Linked DNA regions of Homo sapiens. Changing the gene in region 1 together with any one later gene gives a genetic interaction. Each region holds a gene or a part of one and is shown in the gene's direction. Other genes may lie near its edges.

Evidence for each region. Genes that interact genetically often act in the same process or in processes that back each other up.
Region 2: changes in COPE (region 1) and METAP2 together harm fitness more than expected from each alone (negative genetic interaction), as found in Homo sapiens cells (one large-scale study listed by BioGRID).

The regions. Positions count from the first base shown.
Region 1 is NC_000019.10:18,905,888-18,909,387, reverse strand, and holds part of COPE (coatomer subunit epsilon), read left to right. Parts: intron 1-2,275; coding exon 2,276-2,428; intron 2,429-3,452; coding exon of another isoform or gene 3,453-3,500. UniProt on the Homo sapiens protein: The coatomer is a cytosolic protein complex that binds to dilysine motifs and reversibly associates with Golgi non-clathrin-coated vesicles, which further mediate biosynthetic protein transport from the ER, via the Golgi up to the trans Golgi network.
Region 2 is NC_000012.12:95,508,652-95,512,151, forward strand, and holds part of METAP2 (methionine aminopeptidase 2), read left to right. Parts: intron 1-3,243; coding exon 3,244-3,347; intron 3,348-3,500. UniProt on the Homo sapiens protein: Cotranslationally removes the N-terminal methionine from nascent proteins. The N-terminal methionine is often cleaved when the second residue in the primary sequence is small and uncharged (Met-Ala-, Cys, Gly, Pro, Ser, Thr, or Val).

The DNA.
Region 1 (3,500 bases):
CTCCAGCTGGAGCCAGCCCTGCCGCCACCTTGACTTCAGACTTACGGCCTCCAGAGCTGTGAGGAACGAATCCCTGTTGTCCTTAACTGCCCGGGCTGTGGTGCTTTGCCACAGCAGCTCCAGGACATTGAGACAGGTGACCTCCCAGGGCCACTGTTTCTCCCACCCTGCACTTACTTCACCAGCTGGAGTGAAGGCAGGGAACCCTGGGTCCCCCAGGAGCAGCAGCTGCTGTGAGCATCACAGAAAAGCAGCCCCGGAGAGCAGGCGGTCCAGGCAGGGGCTTGTGGTCCGTTCATCTGGCTGCACAGCCGCGACCTCATTGGCAGGACGCCCCGGGGACAAGGAGCATCCATTAGTAATTGGTTTTGGTTTTGATTTTGTTTTCTTGAGATACGGTCTTGCTCTGTCGTTCAGCCTGGCATACAGTGGCACAATCTTGGCTTACTGCAGCCTTGATCTCCCAGGCTCAAGTGATCATCCCACCTCAGCCTCCCGAATAGCTGGGACTACAGGCACGCATCACCATGCCTGGCTAATTTGTATATTTTTTAGAGATGGGGTTTTGCCTGGCCGGGCGCAGTGGCTCACACCTGTAATCCCAGCACTTTGGGAGGCCGAGGCGGGCGGATCACGAGGTCAGGAGATGGAGACCATCCTGGCTAACACGTGAAACCCCATCTCTACTAAAAATACAAAAAAAATTAGCCGGGCATGGTGGCGGGTGCCTGTAGTCCCAGCTACTCGGGAGGCTGAGGCGGGAGAATGGCATGAACCCGGGAGGCGGAGCTTGCAGTGAGCCAAGATCGCACCACTGCACTCCAGCCTGGGCGAAAGTGCGAGACTCCGTCTCAAAAAAAAAAAAAGAGAGATGGGGTTTTGCCATGTTGCCCAGGCTGGTCTCAAACTCCTGGGCTCAAGCGATCCGCCCAGTAATTGATTTTGTTGCTGTTGCTTGTTTTTGAGATGGTCTCCCTCTGTCACCCAGGCTGGAGTGCAGAGGTGTGACCACAGCTCACCGCAGCTTCAACCTCCCGGGCTGAAGCCATCCTCCTGCCTCAGCCTCCCAAGTAGTTGGGACTACAGGCGCCACCAGGCCCAGCTGACTTTCTTACTTTTTTGTAGAAAAAGGGGTCCTACTATGTTGCCCAGGGTGGTCTTGAACTCCTGGGCTTAAGCGATCCTGCCTTGGCCTCCCAAAGCGCTGGGGTTACAGGTGTGAGCCACAGTACCCGGCCCCATTGGTAATTGTAACACCTTAGGATGACAACATTACAGTACCAACGCTACGACAACTGGCAGTGTTTATACACCCTTGTGTGCTGGAGCCTCAGGAAGCTTTGTAAGATGGTCTTGGGAGCTCCTTGCTCCTCCCCTGCATGATCCCTGTAACATGGTCCCTCAGCACGGGGAAACAGACTCAGACCTGAAGTCACTTGTCTGTTGGACCTGGCACTGTGGCGAGCCCTCAGTGGAGCCTGGTTGGTATCAGACATGCCATGCCCTCAGTGACACCTCAGACACGGGCCCTGGGCAGACAGCCCCCAGATGCGCGTGGATGCTTACGGGGTCACAGAGCCACGTTTGAACCCAGAAGAACACCAGCTTTGGTCTAGGGTGGCCCCCTCACCTGCCTTCTCTTTTTAGCTGCTCAATAGCCATGGGGAATGGAGGGTCTGGGTCCAGTTAGGGACATGGAGGCATGGGTGACCTGTGCCCTCGGAGCTGAGCCGGTCCTCAGCCTTGCCTGGGCTCAAGCCTGGCCCTGGCCCGCAGCACACTGGCCATCTTCAGGGTGCAGCCAGCACCCTGGGCTCTCAGGGACTGAGGGCAGCTGCCCTGGCAGTGGGGGTGCCCCAGGGCTCCCATCCTTCTGCACGGCCCCTCGGCACCCAGGCCGACCTCCTGCTAGAAGACGTGGCCTTGAAGCCCACAGGGTTGATGGGTTATGGTCAGGAGTCCCAGCTGGGCCCACCAGCCTCCTCAGGAAGGCGGGTGAGGTTGGTGTGAGACTGACGGTGCCTCCTCATGTCCCCTTGGAGCGCCCCACCCCACATCTCCCGGCCTCGGGTCCTTGCCTGGCCCAGCATGAGAGGTGCTTCATAGGAACGGAGGGAGGACATGTCGGGACAGCTCGATGCTCGGCCTGCTGCTGCTCTGCACCCCCAGGGCCTGGCTCACCCTCTCTGGACCTGTCTGCTTCCAAGGAAGGGGACCCTCTGAGGTCCCACAGAGGCCACCCCAGCTGTGGGTCGTGAGCATCTCTGTCTTGCAGGGACAGCATCGTGGCCGAGCTGGACCGAGAGATGAGCAGGAGCGTGGACGTGACCAACACCACCTTCCTGCTCATGGCCGCCTCCATCTATCTCCACGACCAGAACCCGGATGCCGCCCTGCGTGCGCTGCACCAGGGGGACAGCCTGGAGTGGTGAGTGGCCTCCCTGCTCTGGGGCCAGCCCAGGGAGGCAAGTGCCCCCTGCCACATCTCCAGGCTGCGCACGGCCTCGCTGGCTGTCGTCATGGGAGCAGAGAAAGGTGGTGCTGAAATGAGGCCCTGGCCTGCTGTCCAGGCTCCAGCTCCCCTGCCCAGTGTGGGAGGCACTCCCATCTGCGCACCAGGCTGCAGATCCAAGGACACGGTGCCCAGGCTGCAACCCTCTGTTCCCAAGGGCAGAGCAGAAAGCGGCTTTGTCTCTGCTCGGTTTCTGTGTCCCCACCCCCCACGAAGCCTTCTGTGTCTCGGCCCTGGGCCCAGTCTCTCAGGCCTCCCCGGGCCCCCCATACCGGCCCTCCTCCAGGGCCCTCTGGGGTTGGGGTGCTGAAGCCCTGCAAGGTTGGTGCCCCCCTCCACCCTAGGATGTGACTCCGGGCCATGTCCAGGGCACTGGTCACAGAAAGTGTGTCAGTTCTTCCCCGTGAGCTGTCCCTGCAGTGCCTGCCTTCCACTGTGAGTTGCAAGCTGGGCATTTCATGGTCGCTGTGGATCTGCTCCCATCCCACCTCCATCCACAGAGGGCTTAGAATTGCAGGGCGAGCCAGGCATGGTGACATGCACCTATGTTTCCAGCTACTTGGGAGGCGGAAGCAGGAGTATCCCTTGAGTCTGGGAGGTGGAGGCTGCAGTGAGCCGTGATGGTGCCACTGCACTCCAGCCTGGGTGGCAGAGCCAGACCCTGACTCACACACAAAAAAGAAAATAAATAGGGATGTCACACTGTCGGCGAGCCGGCCGACTCGGTGCTGGTCCAGGTGCTGGCTCCTGTTGGCAGGAAAACAAGAACAAGAGGCCTCACGAGTAATTCGTGGTCACAGCCACCTGGGGCTGAGAGGGATGAGGGGACGAGGGGGCCTGCAGAGAGTGGGTGGCCCCAGGGCTCTGCTGCAGGTGCAGGTGCAGGGGCGGGTGCGTGGCCCTCCTCTAGGGCCTTGTTCCTGAGTGTTGATGCCTCCAGGGTGTCGAGTCCGGGCAGGGCCCTCCATCTGGAAGCACAGCCCATGGA
Region 2 (3,500 bases), on another chromosome or scaffold:
CTCTTTTTCCTTTCATTTTCTCCTAATTCTACAACTTGTTTGGTATGTGGTCTGCCTTTCAAGGTATGGTAGGTGACAGTTTGACTTAATGTTTTAGTCACTGCATAATAATTCCAGCCTGCAACATCGGGATTTTTAATATCTACCCTTTTACCTCTTCCATTAAGCTAGTGCAGCATTTTTGGTTTCATTATTTCAGTACCCCTCTTTTGATCCCTGTTATTTTATTGATCAGTGTTCTTAGTTTAAGGCAACAATCCATTTTTATAGTTTAAGCAGAGAGGATGTGGAAAAATCATGATAATAGGGAGATGAAGAAATGGATTCCGGGTTGAACTTTCCAGAACAAATCAAAACACATAGCACAAACGGGCCATCAAAGGAGTATCTTAATCTCCTTTGATCAGGAAGCAATAGAATTAAAAAGTGATTGTTAACAAATTACTGGTCCCAGAATTAGCCTGTGCTGTTACAACCTGCATAAGTAAAAAATGAATTCCCCTGTACCCTCATTTTTCTGTGTAACTAACATATTAGGTTGGTATGGCTAAGAAACTTTCTTTAAAAAAATTGATTGGCTTGTAAGGGTCAGTCTGCAAAGTTTGAATTTTAAAATAAGCTTGTTACTTGTCAACCTAAATAACAAACAGAGGCTCTCTAAAAGAAAATGATGTTTGGGAATAGAGCATTGCAGTGGGAATGCCATAGTAAACTTGTGCATATTCAGGGAGGTAAGGAAGACAGAGGTTTTTGAAGACGAAAATGAGGATGACATAATTGTTTTGAAATAATTATCCTTGGCTCCAAAGATTAATAACAAAAGTGACGCCAGTCGGAGGTTGGGCAGGCAGTTGTTGGGCAGATGTCCTTGCAGAAGTATTTTTTTGTGTAAGGTTGCAGTGGGCTTTGTGCAAGGTTATGGTTTTCATAGTCATTTTCATTATCAGGTGTATAAGCATGAGAACCCTCTCTTCATGGCTTTCCCTAGCTCTGTTTGAGTCTGACAACTTTGACACATTTATATAAGAAGGTTGTTGTGAAGAGTGAATTGATTTGTTTTTCTTGCTGTCCCACTAAGTTTGTAACATACTTGTTCATTGCTTCAGACTACTTAACTCTGCTCTAGAAGAAAGGTAGCTCATACTGAGGATTCTAGAGTTATAGAGTTAAATTTTTTTAAGACCTCCCCCCCAACCTTTTTTTTTTTTTTTTTTTGAGACTCTGTCGCCCAGACTGGAGTACAGTGGTGCAGTTTCATTTCACTGCAGTCTCTGCCTCCCGGGTTCAAGTGACTCTCCTGCCTCAGCCTCCCAAATAGCTGGGACTACAGGTGTGTCACCACGCCCAGCTAATTTTTATATTTTTAGTAGAGATGGGGTTTCACTGTGTTGGCCAGACTGGTCTTGAACTCCTGACCTCAAGTCATCCACCTGCCTTGGCCTCCCAGAGTGTTGGGATTACAGGCGTGAGCCACTGCACCTGGCCGTTTTTAGCCCTTTTTTAAAATTTGAAATATTAACACAAAATGCACAAAGCATAAAAACTCAGCTTCTCAATTGCAGAAGCTACGTAACCTCACTCCTCAAGAAATTGAATATTGCCAGTATTCCAGAAGACGCTCAGTCTCATTTTCTTAGTCCGTTTTGTGCTGCTACAGCAGAATACCTGAGACTAGGTAATTTATAAAGAACAGAAATTGATTTCTCACAGTGTTGGAGGCTGGGAAGATTGAGGGACTGGCATCTGGTGAAGGTCTTCTTGCTGCATCATCCTATGGCATTAGGCAGAAGGGCAATGAGAAGTTTGAGAGAGAGAGCAAGAAATGGTCAAACTTGTCCTTTACAGGGAACCCACTCCTGAGATAATGGCTTGAATTCATTGATGAGAGTGGTGCCTCCATGGCCCAAACTCCTCCTGTTAGGTCCCACCTCCCAACACCATCACACTGGGGATGAAATTCCCAATACATGACCTTTGGGGGATACATTCAAACCATAGCAGCAATACACTGCTTTCCAATTACAGCAGCCTGCCTCTAGTGAGCCACCATCTTGGCTTGTGGGGTCAGTTTGCCAGGTCTTAGAGAAATAGTAATGATGTCTGAATTTTAAAATATATTTAGCTTATCAGCACTGCAAGTATGAAAGGATTTTCATTTGCTTTTCTTTATGTCTTTACTACCTAATTATGCATCCCTAAACTAGTTTTATTGCCTAATTTTGAACTATTATATATATGTGGAATTGTACAGTATATATGTAATTGTGCCTTTTTCTGCTCATTTTGTCAGTTTTAAAACAACTGGAATAAAAAAGCTAGACGTTTTATTCCAGTTGTTAAATGTATTCCTAGCTTTTTGTTTTGATTGTTGAATGTTATTCCCTCGTGAATATGCCACAATTTGTCTATTCTGTCCTTGCTGTCATGACAGTGGGATGTTTAGATTTTCTTTCTTCTTTCTTACTTCTATTTCTTAATTACTGTGTCTCAGCCACATAGGTTTTCTTTTTGAACATTTGAAATGTTGATATAAAGTTTTATAATACTGTCATATTAACAGTATCTTTCACATTATCTTTTGGTCTGTAACAATACAAATATGTATTTTTTATGTTTCTAATAATTTGTGTACATGGCATTTTATTTGTTGTTAACAGTACCTCCTTATACCTCCTTAGATGACCTCCCTTGTGCCCTTAATCCTGTATTTCTTTCTTCCATCCTCCCTTCTAGCACCGTTTTTTTTTTTTTTTTTTTTTTTTGAGACGGAGTTGCTTTCGCCCAGGCTGAAGTGCAGTGATGTGATCTTGGCTCACGGCAACCTCCGCTTCCCGGGTTCAAGTGATTCTCCTGCCTCAGCCTCCTGAGTAGCTGGAATTACAGGCCCCCACCACCACACCCAGCGAATTTTTGTATTTGTAGTAGAGACAGGGTTTCGCCATGTTGGTCAGGCTGGTCTCGAACTCCTGACCTCAGGTGATCCGCTTGCCTCGGCCTCCCAGAGTGCTGGGATTACAGGCATGAGCCACTGCACCTGGCCTACTTCTAGTATTAATAACACTGCAACTACTTTTTATATTCCACTAGATTCCAGTTTATATTAAACTACCTTAATGTAAGGTTATTTAGTAAAGCCATACCTGGTTTTTGAATAAATGCTTGAACTCTGTACCAAAATGTAAGAGATCTGTTTTTGCTTCTTGAGATCCTGAATGACTTTTATTTCCCTATTTTTTATAACAGTGAAACCAATCCGTAATCTAAATGGACATTCAATTGGGCAATATAGAATACATGCTGGAAAAACAGTGCCGATTGTGAAAGGAGGGGAGGCAACAAGAATGGAGGTATGTGTGTCACTAACATTTTACTTCCATGGAAGACATTTTTTTCTTCCAAGCAGAAGGTCATGGTAGTTAAATATATGGTTATACTGACCAGAATTAGCTGCTTATCATCCATATTCACCCTGCCAGGAATTGGGCCATTTGAATTTGCAA